Regions from separate parts of the Homo sapiens genome. Here regions 1 and 2 are each linked to region 3. The links come from fine-mapping of genetic effects on gene expression. A gene starts in region 3. Each other region holds a variant in brackets. All regions are shown on one strand. Distances are from middle to middle.

Region 1 (9,401 bases), 45 kb after region 3:
CCGTGCCTTAAAGCCCCGAATCACTTCATCTTCCCTGGCCTCTCTCGAGCAGGCTGTGACCTAGAAAGCTCCTGTTCGCCCAGCTGCACTTCCTTGCCTCTTCTGCGGTGGTCCCAGGCAGTGCCTTGCCAGGGCCGGGTAATGAGGCTCTGCCTAATTATCACTGGCCTGGCCCAGGGCCCACACGGCAATGAGAGGAGCAGTTTTTGATCCTGCAGCCCCTGGTGTTTCGGATTGCTGAGCTGTTCGTTGATTGTGCAGGCCTGAAGTATGGGATTAGGAAAAGGCCCGCCTGACCCTAGCAAGCTCTTGTTTCTAAGCCAGGACCGTGGAGGCTCAGCGAAGGCAGGGAGGGAAGGGACTGTGCCTCCGGCTCCGGCCCTGGCCCCCCAGCCTCCCCAGAGTGGGCATCCACCACCCCCTGCCTGCTGGGGACAGCGCAGCCCCATGCCACAGGGTTGCGTAGGGAGCTGGGGTGCAGAAAGAGCTCCGTGGCTGTGGGTTTTGGTCCTGGGCTTCGGGACAGACTGTTCAGGGCTGGTTGGGAAGGACATAGACTGAGCAGACCCTGCCCACAGAGGGCTTTTCTGTGCCAGGGCCACAGGGGTCCCAGAGACGGACACAGAGGCTGCCACAGGCACCCATGGCTGGTAGAATGAGGCAGGGACTCAGAGAACTGGGGAACTGACTCCCACCTCAGTTTCAGTATCAGCAAGGCGCCCTTGAAATCTGATCCCTGGCTTCTGAAGCCCAAATGGAGAGAAACCCCGGCCACTTCCCACCACCCTGGTGGCCCACCACCTGCCAGGAAGGTGGGGGCGTGGCAGAGGGGGCGCACATCTCCGCAGCGGATCCGCTGACCTCTGCATGAGCCCTCAGGCCTGCCTGGCTGGCTTCTCCCTGCATCCCCACAGCTGACATACGATCTCCCCCAACCACATAAAACCGCGCAGCCTACAGCCTCTTCCCATTGGCTTCCTCTTGCCAGAAGAGAAGCTCCCAGGGACCCCAGCACCGGAAACAGGAAACTCCAGCTTTCCTGTCCTCTGATGAAGATCACGGCCACATGGCCACCCCACCGCCCCCAGCCTCCCTGCAGGGGCTCGGCCTCTAATCCCCAGTCTCTGGGCCGTATTCACATGTCGGATGGGGATGCTTTCAATTTCCCTTTCCTGGTGGGTGGAAGCTCCCGGCTGCGTGGGCACAGACCAAGGCATGGCAGGCATTCCCCACCAGTGCTGGCTGCGCCCAGCCCACCTCCCAGCCGGCCTCGCTCACCTTCCCTCTCCTTCTCCTCTTCGCCCCTCCCATCCCCAGGGGAGTGAGTTTGATATTGAGCCTTAGGACAGACAAGAATTGGGCAGTGATCATGGGTAATGCTTTGATCACTGGCCTGGGCCCAGCCCGGCCCCCTTCTTTGAGGATAAATGTAAAACAGACTTCAGGAGCTTACAGTCTAGTGGAAAGCCACAGCGTGTTCTCAGGTCAGCGGCCAGGTGTGGCAGCTGCCAGCGTGGTGCAGGACCATGGAGCGGGGCATGCTCGGTGGGCTGTCTGACCTGCCCCCACCTGGCCTCGGAGGCTGTTTCCTCACATGTGGAAAGAGAAAGCCAAACTGACTTCTCATAATGGGACAGTCAGCACCTAGGAGTGGGAGAGGAGGTTTTGGTGGGCTGAGGTGGGCAGGGAGAGAGGAGGGGTGAAGTGCGCTGGAACAGCAGAGTGGAGCCTGGGTCCTGGCTTCACGCCTGGGGACAGGCTCCCCCAGTGTGGTTGGGTAGAGTCAGCAGGGCCTCTGTGGGGTCCCAGGGACATATCTGGGAGGGGCTGGCACAGGCGCCCAGCCTGTGCACGTCTCCACCTCCCCTGCCAGCAGCCTGAGCCCTGACCTGAGATCCCACACAGCACCGTGGCACATCCACTGTCCACCCCGGGGCTTTGGCAAAGTCTGTTCTGTTGCTAAGAAGTAGAAAACGGGGAGATGGGGCCTCAAAGGGTCAGTGAGTGACCAGGGCAGATGTGACAGAGTCCTGGTCCACTACTCTTCAGCCACCTTGGCACAAGCTGCGCCCTGCCCTGACTGATGTGAGTTCCCACTGAATGTAGAAAGGTGTGACACTTGTCCCTACCCCTAGGGAATCCCAATCCCAGGACCCAACCTCCCCCCACCGTGGTTGTAATTTATCAGCAATCACCTCCAGTGGCCTGAGCAGGCAGAGCCTCTTGGTGGCTAAGGGGTGCTGTCATGGGAAACGGAGGTTTTCATGGTGAAGACATGCTCTTCCCACTGGGGCAGGCGGCCTGCAGAGGCAGGTGGTCTTGGTTCCAGGGGGCTGGCAGGAGCCCATGCAGCCAGGTGGCCACCTGGAGACACCACCACGCCATCCCCCGAGGAGCTCTGTAACCCGGCCTCCCTCACCCCCGCTCGGCACTCCGCTGTAGTCAGCGCTCCTGGTGGCTCTGACTCTGGCACAGGAAATAATAAGCCCCAGCCGACAGCTGTGGGAAGGGGGCTATGAGAGTGCCTCAGGGGATGTTGGGGGGTCAGGCTGCTGGAGCAACGAGCATAGGGCTCCTCCCATCCTGCACCGTGGAAGCCACCTTGCGCACACACGGCTTCACGCTGTGATGCCCTCCTTCCTGAGGATGTGAGCTCAGGGTGGTGGGATTGGGGCCAGGGCCAGAGAGCTCTCCACCTGCTGCCTCCTGCCTGCCTCATCCTTGCCCTGTCCCAGCGCCTGCACCTACCCGGCAGCTCCCAGGCACCCACAAGGCCCAGGCACTGGGACCATCCAAGCAGCAGGTGGCTTCTAACACAAGGATCAGGGCGAGGACCAGGGTAGCTGCCGGTGGTCCCTTGGCCATTTGGGGCTGAGGGAGAGGTGGCCTGGTAGCCTCTCAGGCCCAGCTGCACCTGCTGCCTGAACACGTGCCTCTCAGCTGCCCAGGAAGGGGGCAGGGCTCCCCAGCAGCTGCAGCTCCACCACGCAGCCGCCCTGGGCAAAGCATCAAGTCTAGCTCCTCCCAGCAGTCTCACCCCAGCCCACGCCATGGGCGACTATGCATCCTGGTGGTGTCTGCTTCCCACCCTCAGTTCCGTAGTGCTGAGGGGCCCGCGTTCTCTGTGCACAGTCCTGGGAGGCCCATGGCTTCTGCCCGGCAAGTCGGTCAGATGCTGGTTTGATTACTATGTCTAAGGGCACGGGTGAGCATTCAGGGTGCTTTGGTGGCTTCACCCACTTAGCACCTTGTTAAGACAGGGAGCCCCTTATGGACACTGTTGAGGTAGAGGATTCCTGTCTTGGGGATAAGCCCTTTGTTTCATCAAAATCTACTCCCTGGGTCTGACTTAGTTTGGGGGCATTTAATGCTTTGGTAAAGTTAATATCCTCTTACTCCCTGGCAAAACTGTTCATTACTCTTACCTCAAATGTACACTTGATTTGCTGAGGCTTTTTAAAAACAGGCCGGCCACGGTGGCTTACGCCTGTAATCCCAGCACTTTGGGAGGCTGAGGCGGGTGGATTACTCAAGGTCAGGAGTTCAAGACCAGCCTGGCCAACATGGTGAAACCCCGTCTCCACTAAAAATACGAAAATTAGCTGGGCGTAGTGGCACACGTCTGTAATCCTAGCTCTTCGGGAGGCTGAGGCATGAGAATTGCTGGAACCCAGGAGGTGGAGGCTGCAGTGAGCAGAGATCATACCACTGTACTCCAGCCTGGGTGAGAGAGCAAGACTCTGTCTCAAAACCAAATTCCTGGTCATGTCCTTTGAGAGGCACATCTGGGAGTCCTGCTCTGTGTGGTAGCTGAGCTCCTGGAACCTGACAGTGAGTCTGCCAGCATCCTCTCAACTCTGAGTGCCTATGATCCCAGTCTCAGTAACTGCTTCCTGCCCTCGTCTTTCCTCCTCTCTGGGTTCCTCATAAAAATGTCCAGGAGGAACCAACTCTTCTGGTCCTGGGTCACCTCCGAATGGCCACAGAGTCATGAGCTCCCTGGGCTGCGCAGCCTGATCCTGGACACTGCAGGGCTCTGGCTTGCCTGGTAGACGCCCCCTGCCATTGCACCGAGGGCCAGCCCTCCAGCAGCAGCAGCGAGAGCCTCAGGAGAGCACTGCTCCTGGTCACTAGAGGACACATGATCCACAAAGACGAGGCCGGTGTGGACCTGCAGCGTTGCATCGTCCACTGCTGCTCTCTCTGAGGGCCACTCCTCTGAGTCTCCCACGCGGTCCCTTCTAGTCACAGTGGAGGTCCTCAGGGCATTTTCCTGAAGCAGCTGGTTGGAACTTTGGCGGTTCCAATGGCAGAGCCAGAGGATTTCTGCTGCTTTCATGTTGCCAAGGAGCCCTTGAAGGAGAAGGTGCCCTGGGGCAGGGGTGAGTTTAGATTTCAGTTCTGCCACCTGCCAGTGGCACTGTGAGGGCTGGAAAGGGTGCCAGACAGAGAATGTGGACACCTGTGTTCTCTTCTAGACCTTCTCTGCCTCATCGTGACTTTGGATGAGTCATAGGTCATCTCTCTCTGTCCTCAGTTTCCCTCCTTTTTAAAAGTGAGGTGTTGGCCAGATGACTTCAAGGCACCTTCCCCACCATCCCCTAGTCCGTTGTGTGATAAAGCTCACAGGAGGTGGGGGTCAGGGCACCCTTCATTCCTGGGCCACCCTGTGCCACCCAGCTCCCTGGACCTGGCCCACAACCCCACCTCCTCTCATCTGCCCTCACCCCATGACATTGTCCACGTTCGCACAAGCTCCAGGGGACAGGGCCTCATCTGTCTTGTTCACAGTGAACTCCCCAAGACCTAGAGCAGGGTCTGGCGCTTGGTAGGTGCTCAGGGCACATTTTTGGACAAGTGAGTGCTGGCCAGGACGCCCCTCCAAGAGCGGACCCATCTCCAGCCAGGCCACCCCTCCAAGAGCAGACCCATCTCCAGCCAGGCCACCCCTTCAAGAACGGGCCCATCTCCAGCCAGCTTGTCCCACAGGTTCGGCAGTGTCTTCCCGAGCCTCAACATGGCTGTGAAGAGGCGGGAACAGGCCTTGCAGGACTACAGGAGGCTGCAGGCCAAGGTGGAGAAGTATGAGGAAAAGGAGAAGACGGGGCCAGTGCTGGCCAAGCTCCACCAGGTACCAGGGGAGACAGGTGGGCAGGGGCTAGACAGGTGGGCCATCGTGGTCACCTGTGGTAAGTCCCTCCCCTCACCTGGGGGCACCAAGACACCAGACGTCCCCACCCCACCCATCCCGTATCCGGCACCCAGCAGTGAGAGAGTTTTGACACCCAGGTCTTGTTCCCTAGGCACGAGAGGAGCTGCGGCCTGTGCGGGAGGACTTTGAAGCCAAGAACAGGCAGCTGCTGGAGGAGATGCCGCGCTTCTACGGCAGCCGCCTCGACTACTTCCAGCCCAGCTTTGAGTCCCTCATCCGAGCTCAGGTGAGGCCGCCAGGTGCTCTTCCCCTGGGCTTGGTATACACAGCTCATGCCACTCCCTGTCACCCACACTGGAAGGGTGGCTTAGCCATTCTCCGTAAAGACAGGGCACCCACCCCAGGCAAAGCCCTGAAGGAATTCATTCCATTACCAGAGTCCCAGGCTCAGCGACTTGGGGGACCTGTCTGCTGTTAGACTCCTCACATTGCTCTCTGGTAAATCCCATACCAGGAATGGCCGAGGTTCCCTTTTGGTCCAGCAGTTCCGCCATGGATCTCTCTACATTTCACTATAAGTAGCTCCTCTGCCCCGCACCCTCAAGTGGGCGGTTTCTTGGCCCAGGGTGGTGCCGAGAAGAAAGGGATCTGGAGAATGGAGGCCTTTTCTGAGGACTCAGCTCCCCTCCCCTGCCTACCGTGAGCCAGTCTTTTTAGCAGGAAACGGCGGGAGTCCTGCCTTGGAACCACTAAGGAAGGGGGCTCCAGAGCCCTGGGGAGAGCCACAATCAGGGCTGCTCCTAGGGCCCTGGGGTGGAAAGGCAGGCCTGGAGGCATGGGGGCGCCACTGGGGGTCAGACACGGGCCAGGCCCCAGCGTCTCCTTCCACTCGGGGACGGGAGGACACGGAGTGGCATGCTCCTCACCCTCCTCCATCTTCAAGCCTTTAGGAAGGATTGTTCCCCCAACTGGCAAAATAGAAAAGGGTGGGCACCCATGCCAGAAGCGGGTCCCTTCCACACAGGACCCTGCTGATGGCTTGCGCTCAGCAACAGCCTTAGTACCCCAACACCCGTGGCACCCTGCCAGGTCCCTGTGGCTCTGCCCCTCCTGGCCCGGGTGGTCTGAGCGTGGCTGGGCGTCTGGCGCCCTCCAGTGGCCATTTCCTGCAGGCCCGTAGTCGCAGCCGTGAAGCCTGGCCAGTGCACACCCACCCTGCCGGGCCAAAGTCAGGGTGGCCACCTGCCCCAGTCAGGACACCTGAGCAGGGTTCATGCCGGGGCGGGACCTTGTCAGTGACCCACGTACTTGGTCCTGTGCCATCTTTAGGGGGCAGTGAGACCTAGAGCCTTCTGCAGGAGGAGGTAGGGACTTCTCCTGACACTTGCTCCTGCAGCGAGGGCTCCCTCCAGCCGCCCCATTGGGTTCACGGGAGACCTGGGCCTGCCTCTTCCTCACTGTCACCTGGGTGCTGCCCTGCACCCTCCCTCCTGTTGCTCACAGGAGGAAGCCACAGGGTGCCAGGCTCCCGCGTGTCCAGGTTGGAGCAGATGGGAGGCCAGGGATGCCCTTTAACCAGGCAGCATTGCTGGGGGCTGTTGACTGCCTCTTGGGCCCCAGCCTCCCCCTCGCCCGCCCGGCTGCCATTAGTCATGGAGAAGTGAGTATTCCCAGTGACTCAGCGCACAGTGGCTTGGGCAGGGAGTGGGGGCAGGGTGGGCCGCC[G/C]CCAGCCCAGAGGTGACAGCAGTGTGTTGAGACCAGCTCACTTTAGCACCCCCTCGGCCGGCGGAAATCTCGCCTCAGGAGTATCAGCCGTGGGTCCCCGCCCCACCTGGCATTTCCCACAAGGTCCCCTTAGTGTCTAGAGCTCCTCCTCATGTCTAGAGTGAAACGTGGAAGCTTTCAGGAAACTGCATGCTTTCATTGGGTCATGAGGTAGAAACTGAGGCAGAAGTGGCCCCTATTGTCTGTGGAAAAGCCCCTGGTCCTCAGCCATCTGGGAGAATTGACGGGCTTCCCCATTCCTCCACCTGCCCCACCCTCAACCCTGTGTCCCCTCCCACACCATTTCTGGTGCCTCCCTAGAGGGACCCTGGCAGTGAACCTGGCCTCTGAGCTGTCCCCCTGGCCACGCAGCTTGGGCCATGAGCAAGGGTGGGATGCAAGTTGGGAGGGAACAGAAGGCTAGACGGGCATCCCCTTTCTTGCCTGTGCCTCTAAAGCTGGCTTAGGGCTTTGGGAGCCATCAGCCTACCATGCTGTCTTTCTGCCATGGACAAAAGCCTTGGGTTCTCCCCTAGCTTACAAAAAGCAGTAAAACTCCAGTCATGGTGCCCATCATTCCACAGTCGCCCTAGGAGGCCCATGCCTTCCTGCACCTGCTGCTGGGGGAACCAGGAGCCCGAAGCAGGGGCGCCTCCACCTCCAGCCACTGAGGCCCTGTTGCTCCCCGGCTCCTTTTGGTTCAGTCTCAGCTAGAGCCCTTCCGTGCCCTGCATATCCCCAAAGGCACGCTGCTGCACAGCTCCAGATGGGTAAGGGCAGGGGGTAGCAGAGAAGTGTGAGCCTCTGGCCCCCTGAAGCACACGGTTCCCTGGAGCCAGCACGTGCCAACCCCTGTCGCCTCCCCCAGGTTGTGTACTACTCGGAAATGCACAAGATCTTTGGAGACCTGTCCCATCAGCTTGACCAGCCAGGCCACTCCGATGAGCAGCGGGAGCGGGAGAACGAGGCCAAACTCAGTGAGCTCCGGGCCCTCTCCATTGTGGCCGATGACTGAATCCCCGTCACTCTTGGAGGACTCCTGTGACGTGGTCAGCCTCATTCATCCTTGCCCTTCTCAGGGCTAGCTGCTCCTCTCACAGGCTGGGGACAGAGGTGGCCCTGGTTCACTTGCCGGCCCTTTGCAATGAATGACTCTTCCTGAGCCTGGCACCAGGAGCCCTAGGCAGGCCGCCGTCTCCCCACTCACAGCCCCAGCAGGTAAGCAGTGTAGACAAACCCTTGGGGCTTTTTTATTTGGAGAACCGTCCAGCATGCATCCTGGCCCACGGCCTGAGCAAGCTGCAGCCCTTCTGAGGCCATGGGCTTCGTTGGCTAAGTTGGGGGTCTTAGCCTTGCATGCGTTGTGGGCATCAAATCTACCTCCAAAAGACCCATCCTGGGGAGCCCTCTGGCCCCTCGTTGCCTTTTCACTTCAAAACCTCTTTTTTCTGGGAGAGGCCCTGAACCCTGTGCGGGAGAGCTGGTCCTCCAGCCCTGGCAGGCCCTCAGCCAGCTTCCCAGCAAGACAAAGGGCACCCTTGTGGCTTTGGGACCTAAGTGGTTGGGGTTCCCGAGGTCACTGAGGACTGGTACCTCGGGAACGCAAGCTGTCAGTGGAACTGTCCCACAAGAATTCACAGGTCTCAAAGCAGGAACAGTGGGTTTGTGTCTCACCTGAGTATCTGGAATTTTATTTTTTCAAGTAAAATTTTCAATGAAACGTCCACATAGTATTGTGCTGTAACTTAGGCGAGCAGAGGAAACCCCTTCCTGGGCCTGCTGCCCTCCACGGAGCAGCAGCACCCTCCAGCAGGCAGCCCAGCATGCCAGGGGTGTGTGCGCACCTCCCCGGCCCTGGCCCACCTTCTGGAGCGAACTGCACCGTGGTCCAGCAGAGGCGCTGGGTGGGAGGGCACGCGGGCAAGCCTAGGAGAGTAGGAAGAGCTGTGGAGGACACACTCTCAGTTTGTTTTTGACTTTGGTTTATTTAAAAAACAAGCCAAAAAAAAAAAAAAAAAACCCCAACTTTATATACAAAGTCAAACTGAAACCACGGATTATGGAAAGAGGCAAGAATTATGGGTAACAGGGGAGAAGGCTGGGCCAGAGCCAATACCACATTCTGAACACAGGAGCCACGGGAAAGAGGTGCTGGTTTCTTCTGGCAAGACCGGGGTGACTGGAACGCAGTGTTCTACTGGCAAACCCAGCCCAACACTGAGCTCTTTCTAGCATGGACTCCATTCCCGTGATGGCCAAGGGAGACCCTTCCCCCAGAAGCCTGTGTCCGGAACCTAGCAGAGCCTGTGCCATCCGGAGGAGGGGGCTGCTTAGCCCCAGCCAGGCTCCATGTCTTGCTCTTCAGTTCCGTTCACTGACATCAGACCTTGTCCCACACTCGAAAAGCCTTTTTCTCCCCTGTCTTATTCTAAACTGGAAGAGGACAGGAGAAAGTCAGCACAAGACTAAAAGGGCCCCAGGAGAA
Region 2 (10,123 bases), 27 kb after region 3:
AGTATTGAACTGTGGGTAGCAGAGAGAAAACTGGGCTGGACACCAGGGGTGCTGGTTGCTTCTTCCTTGTTCTCTTGTGAGCCAGCAGAGTGACCCTGGGCTTGTCACTGAACCTTTCTGGATCTGCTTCCTCATCTACAAAAGGAGAGGGTTGAACTGGGGAAAAAATTTCTATGGTAACTTACAGTTCTAAAAATACCGTGATACTAAATTAAGGTTTAGAGGGAGGCTGTCACACCACAAATAATGGAATCTACGTTTCTGATTCTTGGTCCCTTGTCTACAGTACTAAACTCCAAGAATCGTTTTGAAGACCACTCTGAGACTTCTTTAGAATTCTCATCCTACTCCCCATATTCTTGGAGTGGAGATTCAGTTTAGAATTCCAGTTTTAGATAAGCTGAAGGGATTCCAACTCCTTTGTTTTATAGTTTAAGAAACTGGGCTCCAGAGAGATTGAGATTTGTTCAAATCACAAAATGAGTCGGAGGCAGAGGCCACGTTTTCTGATACCGGGTCGAGAGCGCTTTCAGCTGCAGCATGCTTCCCACAGAATACAGGCTGTCTGTCTGCAATGCCACTGGGACCTCATTTGCAATGTCTCCAGAGTGGTCCTTGCCACCAGGACCTCATTTGCACTGTCTCCAGAATGGTCCTTGAGGGCAATTGCTCACTGTCCAAAAACCATCCTGTCTGTCAGCTGTAATCCCTGAGAATGGGAAAAGTAACCAGGGTGTGGGGAAGGAACCCATCTCCCCGTGAACCTTTTCTGTTTAGGTCTGAGAAAGGAAGCAACAATTTCATTTTTTCTTTCCTTTTCATTTCCAGACCTTACCTTTCCTCCCTGGTTATTATGTAGTCAGAATTTATTTGTTTACAGAAGATGCGAATCAGCCAGCCCCCAAAGGGTTAACACTCCCAAATTATGGGGCTGGGTTAACAATAAACAGGATGTCCTCCAGAAATTAAATTTAAACCACTGTGACTCAGGCTGGCCCATCCCCTCCACTGGATCACTGTTTGGGGTCATTATCGGTGGTTAATTACACCCTTGGGTTTAGCAACAGTGTGTTGGTCAGTTTGGGCCAAAGGAAAGCAGGCTCAGGGAGAAGGGGGTGTGGAGGGAAGGGTGGGATGTGGGCCTGGTGGAGCGGGTCTGGTGCATTGTGGAAACGGGAGGTTTGAATGGAAGAGCCAAAAGGAGAGGGATGAGCATGGCTGGCTGAGAGCCCTCTGCCGGAGCTGATCGCAGGGATTCTTGACTCACTTCCTACCTGGGATCGGGAGTCTACCCTTTCCATAGCCATTGGGATGCACTTTCTAGCCTGGCCTCTTTTCTTCCTGGAGTTGGAGAATCATAGAATGCTCAGTGCCTCAAGGAAGCTCCTAAATTACCTAGTTTAATCTACTCGTTTTATGCAGCAGGAAATGGAGTCCCAGTGCAGCCGTCACCTGCCGAAGGGCAGCCTGCTCAGTGGAAGCGGAGGCCAGGCTAATGCTCAGGTTGAGACTCCTAGACCCATGATCCTCCTTCCGCTGTGCCATGCTGTAAAGTAGGGAATCTGAGGTGCAGCTCTTCATAGCAAGTCCAAGGCAGACTTGGGCTGGATTTCAGATTATTTTCCAAGTTAGCAGCTTTTTGATTTTGTGAGTTTTCCCAGGGAAATAATCCAGCCCGGCCAATCACTAATGCCTCTGTTATTTATTAACTCTCCCCAGCCTCCAAAGAAGATTTGCAGATCCAAAGTTTGCCCCTCTATAGAGAAGTAGCAAAGCACCTAATATAGACCATAATGATTCGTGATTTCAAGGATGATAGCTATTACAGTGAGTCTGTAATTTCTGAGTTTGCACCTCCTCAAGACACAAGGTTTTATTGTCATTCACAGGGTGTCTTCCCTTTCCTGCCATCCTCGCGGGTGTCTTCCCTTTCCTGCCATCCTCGCCTTTCCTCTCTTCCCCTTTCCTTTCCTTTCCTTTCCTTTCCTCCCCCTCCCCTTCCCCTTTCTTCCCTTCTGTTCCCTTCCTTTATCTCTTTAAAAGACAGGGTCTCCCTCTGTTGCCCAGGCTAGGGTGCAGTGGTATGATCATAATTCACTGCAGCCTCAAACTCCTGGGCTTAAGTGATCCTCCTGCTTCAGCCTCTCAAGTGACTGGGACTACAGGCATGTGCCACCACGCCCGGCTAATTTTTGGTGGTTGTTTTTTTGTGTTTTTTTTTTTGAGATAGGATCTTGCTATATTGCCCAGTCTAGTCTTGAACTCCTGGCTCAAGCAGTCCTCCACCTGGGCCTCCCAAAGTGCTGGGATTGCAGGTATGAGCTGCCATACCCAGCGGATTTTTTTTTTTTTTTTTGGAGATAGGGTCTTGCTCTGTCGCTTAGGCTAGAGAACAGTGGTGCAATTATAGGTCACTACAGCCTCAAACTCCTTGGCCTCACCTTTTCATTTTCTTTAAATGACAGACTATCAGTAGCAAAGATGTTCTGGGGCAGAGCAACCTGCATCTGACACTGTAGGTGGGAGGACCTATCTCTCTCTTAGAACCAAGCCCAGATGCCAATGGTTGTATGCCCACCAGGGCACATGGTCCAAGTAGCAAGCCATGGCCACGCTTCCTCGCCCTCCTGGGGGAAAGTGGCCTGTACTGTACTGATACTTTGAGCTGCATCCTTCCCCACTTCTCACAATATCTCTCTTTGTCTCTTTCTCTTATAGGATTCCTTTTAAGATTGGGCAGCCCAAGAAACAGATTGTGCCCAAAACAGTGAGTAACTCGATTGTTTTGCTGTGAGATTCAGTTCTGTATCACATGGCCTTTGCATAAGAATCAAAGCTTTGAATCAACACATCTTGGGGCTGGGAAGACAGCAACCTGGGCCTTCTTCCTGCTTATGCGGATCTAGAACCTCACATAGACTGAGGCTTAGAGGGGCCTCCTGTCCTGGGACACTTCCCCTAGGAAAGGTTAGCCTGGGCTCTTTATCATCCTTGGGCAGGGGGAATGGGTGGATTACAAAAATGTAGAGGAAGATATTGCTTTAGAACGGTCCACCTCTAGGGACTGGCTTGTGGTCTATACTTTTCCTAAGAGTGTTCCTGAAAGAGTGGCCCCCACCAAAGACACTGCCCAGGCATTTATTTCTGTTACCTCAGCTGCAGAAAACTCCAGGAAGCTTTTCCCAGTGGCCTCGGCCTGTTTGTGTCAACTTCCAAATGCATTCTTGGCCATGACCCAGAGTCACTCAGCAGGAAAGGAAGATTGAATCCCACCCCCCTTTAAGCCCACAGTTTTTATCCCTAGAAAGTTTTTATCTCCAGAATGGGAAAGGAAGAGAATCATAGATTCTTAGGAAGTTAGAGCTGGAAGCTCATAGAGACCATCTAGTCCAACCTCCTGATTTTTCCTGATGAAGAAAATGAGGCCCGTGGAAAGTTGCAATGACTTCCTCAAGTTATAAAAACCCCACACTGGCAAAGCTGGAGTTAGAACTCAGGCGTGAGCCCCTGGCTGATACTCTTTCCATTGCCTCATGCTTCCCTGGGCAGTGAAGCCCTCCCAGTGTTTTGGAATCCCGGTGCAAAATAGCCTTTTCAACCTCCTGACCCACAAATCTGAGTGGGTCTCTTGGTTTTAACATGGGAGACCACAACTGTAGAGCCTCTCTGATGTGACAGCTACAGGAAGTCCGGTGCTGTGCTGGCGGCAGAGGCCCTCGTCTGTCATCCCAGCCCCTGACGGTTCTCCTTGTCTTACTAGCTTCTCCCCTCCTTGGCAGAGCTCTCAAAAGTACAGGAAAGAGATTGCTTCAGTGTGGTGAGAAGTTTGGCACACATCTGACCAATGGCTCCATCTCTAGCAAATCCAGAGTAAGGTCACTTGAGAGGAAACAGGCCCAAGTTAAAAGCACCCTCACAGGGTCCAGTGGCTTACGCCTGTAATCCAACACTTTGGAAGGCCAACGTGGGGGCATCATTTCAAGCAAGAAGTTTGAGACCAGCCTGGGCAACAAAGAGAGACCCCGACTCTACCAAAAAATATGCACGCCTGTAGTCCCAGCTACTTGGGAGGCTAAAGCAGGAGGACTGCTTGAGCGCACGAGTTCGAGGCCACAGTGAGCTCTGATTGCACCACTGCACTCCACCCTAGGTGATAGACTGAGACCCTGTCTGTTAAAAAAAAAA[G/AG]TTGGGGGGTGGGGCCTCTCTGCTTCATGCAGAGGCAGGGTGCTGACCAACTCAGCGCTGACCTCTCATGCAGAGGCTGACCATCTGTGGAGGCTCTCAGCTGAAGTCCAAAGAATCTGGGTGTGCATATGTTGGTCTCTAGCCGGCTGCAGGAAGTGGGAAGGTGTGGCTTTGAGTCTCCAGAGTTTAATCCATGACAGATCTGAAAGGGAAGTGGTTTCAAGAGGGTTCTTTTATTCTGAATGCTCACTACAAACAAAAACCCTCCCAGCACCCCAACCTTTATCAAAATGAACTTTGTTCTCCACAGAAAGTGTAGACAAACCAGCTGCTTTGCCAGTGTGTTGGTGGCAAGATCTCTGGCTCCGTTGATCTAAGGAGTGGCAAGGACTCGCAGTGCGGGCAGATGCACACAGGGCATCCCTCTTCCCTTCCTCGCATCTGTCTCGCTGGAGATGGAATTGTGGTCCTCTGATTATGGCATCTGCTCTCTGATAGACTGGGGGTCAGGTAGGGGTTAAGAAACTAGGTTTGGGAGGCTGGCAGCCTGGGTCCCCATCCTGGCCCTGCCACATGCTGTCTCTGACCTTGGGCAAGTTCCTTAACCTCTGGAGCCTTCATTTTCTCGTTTATAAAATCAGGATGATGACAGTACCTGTGTCACAGATGTTACTTTGAGGCTCACACAAGATAATACACTGAAGGCACCTAACACAGTGTCTGGCACAAAATAAGTCCCCAGTTAACTACATCACAGGAAGCTGGTTGATTTGACCTTCTTTATGAACCATCAGGGACTCAGCCTGTCCCAGGCAGCTAGATTTCCCAACGCAACAAAAGTCGGCTGGGCCTTTGATCTCTCACAAGGAATCACAGCTGAGCTACAGCTCGGAGTAGTTATTTGCTTCCCTGGCCTATACCCCTCCACTCCCCAGAGGCACTGAAGTAGAAGTAGTAAGACCCTGCCTCTTCAGTCTCATTCCCCACCCACCACCCCCTCCCGGCCCCCAAAACAGGCCTGGGCTGTGCAGTTGTCTCAGCATCTCTGGCAGCTGCCCTTGAACAGCAGTGACGCACTCTGTTGTTCTTGCCCAGGCACTTTCAGGGAGGGGAGCAGCTGTGGCTGCCTGGGTTATTGGAAGTCATGGAGCCCCTGTCATGGGAAGAAATGCTCACGTTATCTTCAGGGAGTTTCAGGAGGTTTTTGGCTCAAGGCACCCAACTGTCAGGCACAAAGAAAGCATTGTGTCCCTACCCTCACTGCTCTCCTGTGCCCAGGTTATTAACACAAATTCCATTATTGTCAAGGCTTTGGCTAGAATGGCTTGTTCCTGCTGGGGCTGACCATTAGAACTGAGATGGAGGAACAAAAGCTCCCCCGATCCCGATCCTAACCTTCCACCCAGTCCCCTCCCACTCCCCAGGTCCCATAAAGTGGCGGGAGCATCGTAGCGTAGGAAGAAGCCGCCACACCTTCCTCCATAACCTGGGAGGATGGAAGAGCTCTTCGAAGCTTTGCTCTTCGTGTCCCCCTGAAACAAGGGTTACTGTGAGTCTTGCACACAAGGAACATGCGCTCCAAGGTTCCTAGCCAGGTGGGTGCTCTGCAAAGTTAGGGCAAAGAGAGTCTGGCCACATGCAGCCTCTCCACTGGAGAAGGATTTTCATCTGCCAGGTGGCGGGGCCCTTAGCCTCGTTAATCCTGCTTAATCCTGCTAGAACATACCTACAGGGAGCCCACTTTCCACGCAGAGCATCCCTTGAAGGAGGGGCTTCCCAGAATGCTGAGGATTCTGGGCTTCTCAGACTCCGATCAGATGCACCTCAGCCCTGGGATCAGTGCCCCAGCCCTGCCTGCCAGTTTCCTTTTTCACTTCACCATGAGCATAAGTTTGGGTGGGAACTCAGCCTGTTCATTCACTTCATACTGAGTTCCCACTCTGTGCCAGGGCCTGACCTGTGCACTGCCAAAAGAGCAGGGAACAGCAAAACCCTTTCCTCCCACCGTGGGCCTTGGAGAATGAATGCAGGGGGTGGCCACGGGTAGTCGTCTGGGGCTTGGTTCTCCCTGAGCTAACCTCGCCAGCCTGGCCCAGCTTGCCCTGATCCCCTGATGGTCCGTGCACATGTGTTTATACTTGCATTGTTGACTGGGGTCCAATTGCCTTTTTGGCAAAGGCATCAAGCATTCAAAGATGTTCAGATCTTTTCTGTCTGGCTCTTTTCCTCGGAATGAGGCTCCAGTGTGTCCCTTTAGTCCCTTAGCCATTATCTGAGAGGCTAGAATTCTGGCAGTGTCCCCGTGCATCTTTCCCCAGTGGAGGAGAGAACTCTCGGACCAGTGAGCTAGAGAAGCAACCCACCCCGGCCGCTGGAAGCAGGGGAGGTGAAATGTGTCCAAACTCCTCTCAGGCTGTCAGATGGCCTTGAGCGGCACCAAGTAGAAAACGCGCTCCCACCCCTGACCTTCTCCTCAGCTTCATTGTGAGACCTCAAGTTCCTCAGCTTCCAGGATGATCAACCTAGCTGAAAACCTGAAGTCCCTCCCGGTACAAGTCCAAGCAGTCCCCAGCCAGGGAGACCAGGTGTTGTCTGACATCCCACACACATCGGCACACTTGGGGGATTGCAAAAGGGAGGAAGGGAGCCAAAGGCTAGGGCCCCGGGGTTCAGCTAACACTCAGCACCCCTCCCAAAGAGCGCCCCCTGTGTGTTCTGGATCTCTAGAGGGGTTTGGTTTGGGCCAAGTAGTGCTTAGTTTTAATTTTCTCTTTCTGGAAATAAATACTTTTAATAAGTAAAGATGCTGCTCAGCTGTCATATCCTGCAAGGTTAGAGGAAAGATGTGGGCCGTGCGCGGTGGCTCATGCCTGTAATCCCAGCACTTTGGGAGGCCAAGGCAGGCAGATCACTTGAGGCCAGGAGTTCAAGACCAGCCCAGGCAACATGGTGACCCCATCTCTACCAAAAAAAAAAAAAAAATTCAAAAATTAGCCGGGTGTGGTGGCTCACTCCTGTAGTCCCAGCTGTACGTGGGAGGCTGAGGCATGAGAATTGCTTGAGCCTGGGAGGCAGAGGTTGCAGTGAGCAGAGATTGTGCCACCGCGCTCCAGTCTGAGCGACAGAGTGAGACTCTGTCTCAAAAAAAAAAGAAGAAGAAGGATGTGTCCAGCAGGCTGGGCACAGTGGCTCACGCCTATAATCCCAACACTTTGGGAGGCCGAGGCGGGGGGGATCACCTGAGGTCAGGAGTTCGAGGCCAGCCTGACCAACATGGAGAAACCCTGTCTCTACTAAAAACACGAAAATTAGCCAGGCGCGGTGGCACATGCCTGTAATCCCAGCTACTCGGGAGGCTGAGGCAGGAGAATCGCTTGAACCCGGGAGGCGGAGGTTGCGGTGAGCCGAGATCACGCCATTGCCCTGTAGCCTGGGTGACAAGAGCGAAACTCCGCCTCAAAAGAAAAAAAAAAAAGTGTGTCTAGTAAAGGGAGCTAGGGCATTATCACAACACCCAAGCATGGGACTCCACCCTTAACCAACATCAGGGTTTCCCTGGCTGCTAGTTTCCTGTGTGCTTGGGGCAGCTTATAGCCCAGGTTTATAGCCCAGCCTGCAGCCCCAAATTGCTCTGGTCTTCCCAGCACCCCAGTGAGCAGGAGAAAAACACAGAAACTAACATTTAGTGAGGACTGCCATGGGCCAGGCACCTTGCAATCTGCTCTACACGCACTGCCTCTTAATCCTCAAAAGGAACCACTGGGGTAGATGATATCAGCTATTTCCTCGTAAGCCACCTAAAGTTGGCTGGGTGAGGTGGCTTAAACCTGTAATCCCAGCACTTTGGGAGGCCAATGCAAGAGGATCACTTGAGGCCAGGAGCTCAAGACAAGCCTAGGCAACATAGCAAAATCCCGTCTCCACTAAAATTTAAAAAATTAGCCAGGCATAATGGCATATGCCTATAGTCCCAGCTATGCAGGAGGCTGAGACAGAAGTATTGCTTGAGCCTAGAAGGTCAAGGCTGCAGTGAGCCATGATGCCACCATCGCATTCCAGCCTGGGCAACAGAGCAAAACCCTGTCTCAAAAAAAAAAAAAAAATGCTTAGTACTATCAAGTCTCCACAGCTAGTATCAGAGTTCATATCTTACCTGTCTCTGCTCATGCCTCTAAACTGCATTCTTCCAGCCCTGCTGGAGAAAACCAGGCTGACACCAAAGTACAGACTTTCAAGGGCCCTGGCGAGGCTCCTTCACACCAAAGCAAATTTCCCACCTGCAGTTACACCAGAGTCTTTCCGTTCCTTTAGCTAAGACTTTGGTTCCTGCAAACTTGTAAATCCCCTGGGACAGGCAACACTTTAAATGCTCATCAAGCATTTGTGCTTTAGTGGGAGTGATTTTTGAATTTTTTTCTTACGAGTAGCTTTTGCTGGATCCTAAGGTAAGTAATGATAAAAATAGTGGGTTCCTGGATGGAGAAAGAGTCTGTTGAAAAGAGGAAGAAAGATTGTAGGATGGGAGGCGGGGGCACCAATGGTGGGTTTTACTTCACAGTTTTGTGGAAGGTTCTAGATGCTAGGATCATAAAGTAAGGAAAAGATCATTTTTTTCCTGCTTCTGGATTTTACAGTTGAAATGAGGAAGGTAAGCTATCTCCATGCAGTGAGTCTGTTGTCATGCCCAGAGAGCCAGAGCTAAGCAGACTCTGTGTTCAACTCTCTCTGGCCTCATTCCTGCTGTCCAAAAGGCCCATCATAGTCAGCAAGTAAATTTGTATCTGGCAGTTGTTTATCTCCACCACCAGGGCCCATGTCTGTTTGAATCACCAGGGTATCCCCAGAACCTGGCAGAATGCATCGCACTTAATAGGTGCTCATACATGTTCGTAGGAATGAATGTTGTTTAAATTTGAAACAAAAAGACCTGAACCAGGACTCTGGATTCTAGCCTTGCATTGCCACCAGAATGTCCTGCATCCTTAGGGAAGTCACTCCTGTCTCTGGGCTTCGGGCTCCTCATTTGTAGCATAAATGCTGTTTTGTCATTCCAGGGCTATGTTGAATTAATCTAAATCCAAACGTGGAGTGCTAAGGTTAAGGGGCTTAGAATTCTCTCATCAGGTCAGCGTTGCTGGAAGACAGTGGTAGGAATAGCGTGGCTTTGACAGTTTCTGCAGATGTGTACTCCCTGACCCTCAGAGCAGAAGTCAGGATCTAGGGCTCTTGGGGACAGGATTCCCAGGGAGCAGCCAGGAAGACTTCTTTCTTGGGTCAGCAAATGCCTTCCAGGAGAATGATGGTTACGAACACAGGCTGTGGAGCCAGGCTGCCTGGGTTCCATTCCCACTGTGCTCAACTCTACCCCTCACCAATGGGGTGACCTTGGCCAGGGTACGTAACCTGGTTCCCGGTGACCTGCCTTGGAGATGAGTGTAGAGAACTGCATTCTTGTAAAGCACACAGTGAGGGCTCTGTGAATGTGAGTTAGCGGTTTTGACTTCTCAGAGCACGAAGCCCGAAGCTGGCACCTGACGGCTGCAGCTCTGGCCAGGGAGGGCAGGCCTCTAGCTTAGTCTCCTTTGCCTCTCGATGTCATTTACTTCCCATTGCATGCCCATAAGAGACCAATCATGAGGCTCCGTTTTACAGATAGTGAAGTCAAGGCACCAGAAGAAAGTACTAGACTTCTTAACTTCATCTTCCGCAACAAGTGCAGCCCCGGGTTCAGGACTCACCCATTTGGTTTCAGTGTTGCTGGCTCTCAAGAGAGTTGATACCCGGTCGGGAATGGAGAGAGCCTGACCTGAGTCAGTAGTCACAGTGTCTGTGTTTGATGCATCCCAATCACAAAGCACAGGTGCACGATTGTTCCTGACCCACCCTGAGCCCAGCAGGGGCAGGTGGCCCTGAGTGGAGGGCCGCGTAGGAGGGGAGG
Region 3 (10,123 bases):
GAACTTGGGCAATTAGTTCAGCCTCGGTTTCCTCATCTGTAAAAAGGAGATGATCAGAGGAGCTGCCTCACCAAGTTACTGCAGAATACACGATCTAATACATGTAAAATGCTTCACCCAGTGCCAATGAGACTCTACAATGGTGGGTATTATTATCGGGAACTGCAAAGGGCAGAGAACGGGGGTTGGGAGCATCCATACGCCAGCTCTAGGTTGCCCAGGAACGCAAAGCGGGGCTGAGCGGACAAACCAGAGGCAACCCCAGGACTGGACACTCTCTATGGCAGCTAAGATTCTGGAGGCTGGGAGTGGGGCATCTCACAGACCTTCTCCATCTAGGAGCACCCACTCCCACTCTTTTGACCTCATTTCCTGTAAGGTGGTACCATAAAAGCTTTTTGAGGCCAGAGCACACCAAATACCTGTGACTACTTTATTTTCCAAAGAGAAAGTCAGCAGCAGCAACATCCAGATGAAATACTCTGATCTTGAGAGATGCAGAAATCGAATTATGTTTCTGTCTCTTCCTTTCCTGTTACAGTAAAAAGGTTATTTGTCCTAATGCTTGAAGTTCTTTACACAAATATTCATGGCCCTGTCACTTGAAAGGCCATTCAGATAAATAAATGTCTGCTTTCCAGAGTGAAGCATTTGGGGGTGGGTGGTGAATGGGATGAAGGGGTGGGCCAAAAGACCAGGACTGACAAGGTCAGCCTGCCCCCAAAGCAACCAGGCAACCCAGCACCATTTTCTCCCTGCTTCAGTGCCTTCCCCAGCAGGGCCCAGAGCTCCCACTTCTGACACCTTGCACCAACAGGCTAGACTGGAACCTCAGCTCTCCAGCCCCACCAGCACCAAGGTGGGAGCAAAGAGGGCCGCACTGGGTAGGAACATCAGCCAAAAGTACTAGATACTGCCCCATGGAGATGGAGAAGAAGGGAGAAGGCCAAAGGGTGGGGAGTGGGGCATGAGCACCAACCTCACCTGCCAGGAATGTCTCAACCCCAGGTAGAGCCATGAGGGCCCCAGCTCAAGGCAGCGGCCTTAGCCATACCACAGCCTGGCATGAGCTCCACATCACAGACATCCTGAGCCCCAGCTCAGGAGCTGTGTCTTCAGTGACTTCCTCTGACTTCCCCTTCTGGGTGTGCCCTGGAGCTACCTGGAGGAACAGACCATCCAGACCCAACTCAGAATCTCAGGAGCCTTGGACTCAGTGGTCCTACTGCCAGTTCTCTCCAGTGGGTACCTCCTATTGTGGGTCTGGGGCCATCTTAGAGCCTACCTGTCAGGGGGCAGCCCAGCCTGGACAGCCCTTGGCCTGATGCCCAGGGAACATATCAACCCGGGGGGATTGTTTTCCCTACTGGTGCACTCTCCCTCACTCATGTCTCCTCCTGGTTTCTGTGAGCTAATCAGAGAGAAGGAGGGGGAGGAGGGGGTGCTGCTTGCCTTCCCCGTTATCTGCAGCAATCCACGGTGACTAATGCTCCCAGTTGGTAAAAAGGCAGTGTAATCAAAACACTTTTTTTTTAGTCCTTAAAGTTAGTCATTCTCCCAGAGTGGAGGAAAAAAAAAAAAAAGCCCACAGCAGGCACCACGAGATGCAAGCTGAGAGGCCTGCACTGCTGGGTGGAACCAAAGCATTGGCTGTGGCAGCTCCTGCAGGTCAGAGGCCAGGACTCCTCCTCCTCTGGGTCCTTGGCTATCCTTCCTCCACACCCGCATTTGTTCTTGCTTTCCCCAGCATCTGGGCCTTCTGATCCCTGAAGGACGTCCATGCCATGTGAGGAGCTGCCCTTTCCTGTCACCCTGCCCGGTGCTGCCACCTGCTGGCCTGGCACTCTCCGTACTGGAGGAAGCATATAAAAGCTCCCAGGATGAGGCTGAGCTTGGCACCCTGGTCATAGGGTGGCCCTCCCTCCACCCACAACCTGGCCATTTAGTAGCGGTGCTTCTCCTGGTTCCATCTGTCTGCTGGCTTCTGACCTCACTGTGCCTTGACAGAACCAAAGGTTGTTGGAGGTCAAATGGCAAACTGTAGTGGCAAAAGCATAAGGATCAAAGCCAGGGTGCTCAGGTCAGAAACCCCACTTCACTGCTTCATGAAGCTATACTATTGCTTCATGGCTATACTTCAGCGCCATCATCTGTGAAATGATAATAATGGTAGTATCCACCTCACAGGGTTGAGGCAAGGATTAAATGTGAACTGCAGAGAATAGTGCCTGTCATGTCATGAGTGCTCAATTATTGTTAACTTATAATAAAAATAATAACAATAAAGTGGAATATAAACCATCTCATCGCTCTTTCTTGTCCAAGGCAGACATGACTAATCAATCATAGAACTTCCCCACTGATGGCAGATTCCCCAGAATCCTCAACACTGCATTCCAAGCAGACAATCAGAGTTGGCACATGGGATGATATCCATTCGCCCTCCCAGATCTAACCTGGACCTTTCCCATTGCAGTCAAGGAAAATGAGGCCCAGAGGAGGGACAAGACTCCCTCAAGCCACTTGGAGGCAGAGCCACGGGTCAGACAGGCGTTCCTGGTTCTGCTCGCTTCTTGCTGTCCTGGCTTCTGATGTGTCACTTCACCCTGACCTTTGAGCAGTCCGTGTGGGCCTCCCACCACTGGAAATCTCACCCTGATTTCCTCCTTCTTCTCCCACCCTTGCTCCTCCTCCTATGTCCTTGCCCCCCAAAGGCCCTGGGAAAGCTATTTTTCTGAGACGTCCTACTGAGCAGGTACAGAGTAGGGAGAAGTGGGGCAGTGAGGCCACAGAGAAACCTGAGGCCTGTGTCTGAATATCTGCAGGAGCCTCCCTGAGGAATCAAGACCTTTAGGGCTCCAAGAGAGCTGAGCCCACCAATTTGGCCCTATCACATTCAGTTTTTCAGCCTTAGCCCAGTGCTATAATGAAGTCCCTGACAGCCCAGGTCCAGGTTCTGGGAATGCTCACTCTTCACTAATAAGAGGTTGGCATGGTGAAAGACTCGGGGGCCAGCCCTAGACTTCTGTGTGGGAAAGGCTGGGAGAGACAGGACATGACAATCCCAGAGATGAGAGTCAGTGGGAAGCACCTGCTTACCAACTTCTGAGCAAAAACCTCCAAGGAAAAGTTGGGGGCTGATGGTGGAGCAGGTTCTGCTGCTGCTTTTCCCCTCGTAAACAGCTTTGTCCCAGAAGTAGACCTCTGCCACCTGAACAGTCTTTTACCTTCAGGCTCAGACTTCTGGGGAAGAATCAGTATTTACAAGGCTTGAAACCAGGAGTATCCACCTCTACCCAAAGCGCCTCCACTCTCAGCTTCTACTTAGAAACCCAATTTTCTCTTTTCCATTCCTTCCCTGCAGGGGCAGGATCAATCTGTATCATGCTGTCCCTTTGGTTATAAATAAGAAAGACATAGCTCCCGACCCTGCAGGCTGAGTTTTTCACAACAGTGGGAAGTGTTTGTGTGTCTCCATGTTCAGCTCCCCAGGGATCAATGCCTCATGGCACAGCAGGCTCATGGAGGAACACAGGATAGCAGGATGCCTGACTGTCCCTCCTCAGCCCAGTGCCCCTCTAGCTGAGCGAATGAGCCACAGGTAAGGAGACCAAGCAGGCACATTCCAGACAGACTCCTGGGAGGACACCATTCTTTTTAGTAACCTCAAAGATCCTGCTGGCTGCATTAAAGATTTCGAGGTGACCTGTCAACAGCACAGCCCCAGAAAAATTCATATTTAGCTTTATCCAAGATATCACCAGTTCCTCAGACCTGCCCACTTCTCTGGGCTTGCCCCTCTGTTCACCTGCCTTTCCCATTCTCCTATTTCCCTAGGGCCTCTAGAGTCAACAAGACAGCTGACTTGGAACCTTGCAATGTTGGATACTTTGGGATGTGATCTACCCACTCCATCTTATAGATGAGGGGACTAAGGCCACAAAGGGGATGTGACTTATCTGAGGTCAGTTATAGTGTCAAAGGTTGAACTGGAAATAGAGCCGCAGACTCCTCCAGACTTGTAGTCCAGAACTTATCCATTCTAGTCCTCTAGGATGTGTCTGCTGCCCTCCAGCCCTGAAACAGACTTCTACTAGGATATAGCAGTTACCTAGGCTAAAACGTTTGGAAATATTTATCCCTGTGGGGCATAACTGAGGGAGGCAGAACATGGGGAAGGGAGGAAGCAGGTGGGAAAACTATTCACAGGTGCTAACTGCCAGGAGGCTCCTAAACCCACAACAGCCCTTCCATCCGTCACACTCTCTGCAAAGCAGCAAGGACTCTCTCTTTCCCTTTACCCACACTCTCTGCCCAGGCTACCCTTTGGTGACTTCTGCTCTTCCTCTTTACTCTTCAAGGCTGCTCTTGTGCTCATTTTGGCCTGTTTCCTGAGGAACAACATGGTAATGAAGCTGATCTGCATGATGTGCTTGGGGATCCAACCTCCATTGGAAACGTCAATTGAGTCAAACTATGGACTCTCAAGAATGGAAACAGAAAACACAAATGAGAGACTGCATCCTGTGGCCCACCCTCCTACCTCTCCTGCTCAAGCCCTCTACTCCACCCTAGGAGGTCAAAACAAATCATACACTACTTCTGCTCTAGGTCATTGGTCATATTTTTCCCGCTAGGTCATTGATTAGCAACCCCCTAAGCAGTCCCTGAAACAATCCCGGTCCATCTGAGGAAGGAGAATTCCTAGAGAGAAGGTCACTGGGGGCCCAGCAGCACCTGCACGGGCCTCACTGCCTTCTTGTCTCTCTTCCAAGGCAGGGAGGTACTTAGCGGTGAGGAAACCAAGTCGGCCCAGAATCCCAGGCAACTTGTGAGCCACTAAGGCCCTGAATTCTGACTTTGGGAGACCCGAGGCAAGTCAGCTGCTTGCTTGGTCCTGTCTGTGTCTTAGCCATGGTAAGTTCCCTCTGCCTGGAGCCTCGTCACCCCTCATCTCAGATTCACCTGGCTAGCCCCGATTCTGCCTTCAGGGCTTGGCTTACACACTGGCTCCTCCTGGAAGCCTTCCCCAAAACCCCATGTGCTACTTCAGGGTCCCCTTCTAGGCTGCCACCACACCTCATTCTATCCTATCCTATAGCATGATTATAATTGCCTGCTTGTCTCTCCCTCCAGGAAAGTAGCTCTGGGAAGGAACAAGAGCAGGGCAGATACTTCTCTGAGATAGCTGTATCCTAAGGTTGGCTCGGTACCTGACACTAATATTAGTGCAACTAGTATTAGTTAAATGAAGGAATAGAACGAATGGGGCAATTTACATCATTTGAGTCCTGTAGAGGAGACCAAAGGGAAGGGCTGAAAGGCAGGGAACAACTCATACTCTGCGTCTTATTGTGTTGAATAACTCTAGGAAACATTCCAACCTGAAAAGCACCTATCTATTGATATTCAGAGCCCTGTGCCATCTTGGAAGGGAAACGTCCGTTTGTTTGTAACAGGTAATGCATGTGTGGTGTACAAACTGTAAAAGATAGGAAAGAGCATTCAGAGAATGTAAGTTTTCCACTTTCTCCATCCCAAATGGCTTCTTCTCCCACAGACAATTGCTGCCACTGTCTCTGGATTAGAAACCACTTGACAGAGGGGACAGCCCGGCTAAGGGCCCTGCATGGTCAGGTGAAGAGATCTTTAGGAGTCAGTGTTGAAGGCAGAAAACGCCCCCAGAGGTTCCCCTCATCCCCCGTTGCAGCCTGTGTGTCTAAGCGCTTGGCCAGAGCCAGAGAGTCGCCGGCAAGGGAAACTCCGCGGCGAGCACGCAGCAGCAGAAGGGTTAACGCGCCGGGCTCCGCCTCCCAACCGCCTCTTCCGGGCAGAGAGGCGGGCTTACGTCACTTCCTGGAGACTGGTTGAATCCGGAAGTGACCCTAGAGAAACGAGTTGTGGCTGAGGACCCCGGCGGCAGACGCAGGTTCGGGACCATGAGCTGGTGAGTGAGGCCCAGGCGGCGGGAGCTGCTGGACCCGCGGACCCGCGAGGCCCCTGGCCCTGTGTCAGTGCCGCGTCCCGGCTCCCTCCGGTCCCGCGCGACCCCTCCGCCCCAGAGCAAGGCCCGACAGCCCCTGCCCTAGGGTCGTTCCCTCGGTGCTTTCCGGAGTCGCAGTCTCTCAGCAGGACTCCCGGGGAGAGTGGCGGATGATCCTCTTAGCCTGGGACTCCGCGTCTGACCCGTTTTGCCGGACTCGCGTCCTCCTAGCTCCTTGAAGTGAGGGACTTCCTTGTTCCCTCCTTTTTTAAACACCCATTGAGGTGGAGTCAGTGTCGTCTTTCTCTCCTGTGGGCATCTCTGCCCCGCGCCAGTCCCTCCAGAGCTGTGGCCCTCGCTGTGGCAGCCTGGACCCAGTTCACTAATCAAAACCCACTCCCTTCTGGGTAACTATCCTCTTTGCACGACTTAGCAGGCTTCAAAAGACAAGGAAAACTTGCTTCTCTTTTTAAAGGGGCCAGAATTACACTCCGCACACACCCTTCCACTGTGGGATTGGACTGGTTTTAATCATTCCAGAGCTATTACTCACTGCCTGCCCTCTAAATAGGCATGGTTAAGTTTAAACTTATGGGAACTATCATGCCATGAGAAAAGAAGCCAGGGAGTCTTAGAGTAATAGAGTCACAATTCCAGTTGCTGCAGTATGATGTGATACTTGGGTCATAGTAGACACTTCATAATGGTGTATTTATTTTGTAAGACTCAGTTTGCCCAAAAGGCAATCCCCATTTGTTGCTCTCGATTATTTATGTTCACAGGAGAGAATTGTGACTTGCCTGCCTTCCTGGGGCTTTCTTAGAGGTTAGAGAATACTCATATGCAGCACCTTACCTTACCGTCAGGCCCAAGGACCTATATAGCCACAACCCTGGACCTCAGGGGATTCAACTATAGTGTGTGAATAAATTGAGCCCCAGAGATGTACAAGATTAATCAGCCCATGGACATAGGGAACATATTTGCCACTCTGTCCTCAGAGGCTAGTGTGTTTGTTTATGCAAAGCGCATGATAACCAGTTATGAATGAATTAAGATAACAGAATGTCCTTCAGGAAGGCTTTTGAAGCTTAATTTTGGCCATCAGTGGAGAACGCAAGCAGCTGATATCAGTCAGTGTCAGGGATACTTCTCTAAAGTAAAATGCGAACCATCTGTCCCCTCCCCCACCTGTTTCTTAGACCAAGATTGATGGACAAATGTCAGACAATCACCGCAAGCACGGGAGGAAAGCCTGAAGCAATGTCCTAATAAGCCCCGGCAGGAGCTTCTGCTTTTCCCTCCACCATTTGCTCCAGGAGGCCAATAAGGGGCTGGAGCCTTAAAAAGCTACCTTCCCTGTCTTGTTATAACCTAGTTAGTGGTGGGCAAAGCGGCAATTCTTCAGTTCCCTTTCCCAGAGGAATTACGTCCTTTCAGTGTCATTCTGGGCCCCCCAGTCTTGCAATATAGATATCCTTTTGGCTGCTGCGTCTTGAATCTTTGGAGTGTTCTTACCTAATTTTTCAAAGTGAAAATGAGGCAGTACAGATGCTTTATATTGCCTAGATTGGCCTTTACTGAACCAATCTTTCCTTCACAAGTTGGGAGAAGAGCACAGCAGAAACTAATAAAGGTAAATGATTCTCTGGGTGATCCGAAGCAGGTTGTTTCCACCTGTCTCACAGAAAGTTTCCCTTCTGAAAAAATAGTAGCCCATTCCTTAAAGGTTATCCTGTCAGGTTGGAGAGAATTGAGATTGACAACTGTCTAACAAGAGCTGAGATTTTCATCTAGTAGCTTTAATTTACCAGTACATGCACATCTTGGTATCTCCTTGGACTGAGAGTCACAGCCAGAAGGGTGGCTTTGTCCCTCAAAGCTGAGATTCCTTTCTCTTCCCCCTTAAAGGGCTTCTACGTCATCTCTTGCGTGGACCCTGACCCTGTCTCTCAAAGACGGGAACAGCACCGGCGCCTGGGCACACAATCACACTCAGTTCCTAGCTCAATGGCTGGCAAGGAGACCGGGGCTGGGTCCTTCTGATTCACTCCCTGAGTGGTTTTCCTGCCCCCAGAATGAATCCATCCATTCATGTGAGACTGGAATTCTCATTAGGGGAAGAGACCAGAGTGACGTAGAGCCATCATGGGAGGCTGATGCCCAAGGTCAAGTTCACCAAGTACATGGGCTGTGCCAAGCCATCATTAAATAAGGCACATGGCCCATGGTCCCCAGAGGGTAACCATTGTTCTGGGCTAGGCTGAGCTTTCAAAATGTCACAGTGAGAAATGTCCAATATTGATGCCCTTTGCACACTGTGGACTTTGCATGAAGAGTGAGAGGCCTTTGTTCTCTGCTTCCTCTGTGCAGGCAACCCGCCCACCCCCTGTTTGTTTAGTGGGTACCTGCTGCCTTCCTGCACCATCTACCCATCCACTCCCCATACACCCATCTGCCTTTCAGAAAAGTGACCCGGTGGTCTGTCCTACTAGGAAGAAGGCATTTGATATTCACATCTCAGATCACAGATTCACTTCTTGGCCTCAAGCCAAATGCTTCTCTCTCTCTCGCTCTCTTTTTCTCTCCCATTGTCCACCCCACCTCCCCCCGCCATTTGCCCCCCTCCCAACTTTCTCTCCTCTCCTCCCCACTCACCCCCTCCCTCCCTATTTCTGTCTCCCTCTTGTCTCCCTTTTCCCCTTCCTGTCTCTCTTCCCCATCTTCCAGTGTATACTCAGGTGGCTTTATTATGGTATGGAGAGAGGATTAAGTAGAATTAAGAATAGTGACCTCAATCTAAGCTGGCTCCAGGAATTGTAGCCTCCTGTTGAACCATACACCTTGATGATTTTAGGCTTAAACGAGGAGGAAAAGGGAGTACTGGAAGAAATCTCCCTATACCTAGGGGTCCAGTAGTTTGACAAAAAGGAAGGAAATTAGAGGCAGAGCAGGTAAGTGTGAGTAGGAGTTAGAGTGCTGCGTTCAGGTTCTGGCTCAGCCACTCACAGTGCGGCCTGGTCAAGCATTGAGCTGTTCTCTGTCTTAGTTTCTCCATCTGTAGCATGGAGTGGCCATTCCTGCTGACAATTTGCCACCTGAGCCTGCTGTGAAATGAGTGGAGTGATATTTTTCTGACTCTTCCGGGGTCTTCTACCTCTGTCTGCCCTTCACACTTTGGTGTTCCTCATGTTTGATCCTTTTTGTTTCTTTCCTGTTTTCACCCTGTAGTCCCTTGCCATCATCTTCAGGATAGAGGCCCAACTCTGGGCCAGGGCTTCTGAGGCCCTCTGGGCCTGGCTGTCCATCTTCACTCCGTGTGTTCCATCCTCCAAGCTTCTCCTGCTCTCTCGTGCCCATGTGCCTCTGGATAACTGTCCCTTCTGCCTGAAATGTTTCCCCTTCACTCACACCCTGTCCACTAGGCCAGCATCTACTCATCCTTCAAGAGTCAGGCCACGCTTCACCTTCTCTGAGGGTCTTCCCTGAGTGGCCCCTCACACCCTGCCATGCTGCACTGGGTGCCGCTCTTCTGACCTTCATCAGCATCTGTACTCCGCTGGCTGGTTTACTTGTCTGTGAGTTCTTGAGTATGGGGACTGTCTTGTGGTCATTGCTATTCCCTAGCACTGTTCCTGGCAGTCAGGAAGTGTTTATTAAATATATGAATGGGGCCTTTTTTCCCTTTTCCTGACTTGCCTCAGCTCAGGAAAAATGTTAAGATAAAAACTTGCAGAACCTACAAACCACTTCCTAAAATGAAGAGCCTCTGAAAGTACTATTGTTAAATTGACCGACACAAGTGGCTTCCAGGTCAGGCTGCCTGTGATTTCTCCTCCCCACTCCTTCTGATCCTCCACTCCAAAGTGCTTTGCTGGGTTTCTTCTGTACTTCCATAGTGCTTCTCCTGTAGCACTTCTGCATCCTTCTGAGTATCACAGACGTACACCTCCCTTCCACACCAACCCCATGAGAACAGGAGCGACATAGAGCTTCTTCATCTTTTTGTACGCATAGTGGGTATCATGCACATAGTGGGTATCTAACAGGTAATTGTTAAATGAATGGAATATAAAGAAGGTAAACTTCTGGGTCAAACAAAACCATTATTCAGTTTTTTTCTCAGTGAAGTCCTTTCCC

What was found. PIP is the estimated chance that this variant, and not a neighbour inherited with it, causes the effect.
Region 1: its variant is the best candidate, but not a certain one, in a credible set for the expression of BIN3 in lymphoblastoid cells (GTEx, PIP 0.73).
Region 2: its variant is the best candidate, but not a certain one, in a credible set for the expression of BIN3 in whole blood (TwinsUK, PIP 0.65).

Annotation. Positions count from the first base shown.
Region 1 is chr8:22,619,952-22,629,352 of GRCh38, reverse strand. CCAR2 (cell cycle and apoptosis regulator 2) reads right to left here. Exons shown (of 21, transcript NM_001393997.1): 21 at 8,882-9,401. BIN3 (bridging integrator 3) reads left to right here. Exons shown (of 9, transcript NM_018688.6): 7 at 4,990-5,131; 8 at 5,304-5,438; 9 at 7,785-8,935. The coding sequence ends at 7,931. Among named protein-coding and RNA genes, the nearest start is that of BIN3-IT1, 18 kb to the left of the region's middle. RefSeq lists enhancers at 1-362, 363-996, 2,264-2,897 and a silencer at 6,221-6,390. The variant G/C (reference allele first, on the strand shown) is at 6,878.
Region 2 is chr8:22,637,399-22,647,521 of GRCh38, reverse strand. It overlaps BIN3 (bridging integrator 3), which reads left to right. Exons shown (of 9, transcript NM_018688.6): 2 at 2,719-2,767. BIN3-IT1 (BIN3 intronic transcript 1) reads left to right here and starts at 5,313. Exons shown (of 1, transcript NR_027715.1): 1 at 5,313-7,151. The variant G/AG (reference allele first, on the strand shown) is at 4,186.
Region 3 is chr8:22,664,868-22,674,990 of GRCh38, reverse strand. It overlaps BIN3 (bridging integrator 3), which reads left to right and starts at 5,870. Exons shown (of 9, transcript NM_018688.6): 1 at 5,870-5,947. The coding sequence starts at 5,940. RefSeq lists a cis regulatory region at 1,162-2,011, enhancers at 5,701-5,760, 5,518-6,147 and a silencer at 6,011-6,170.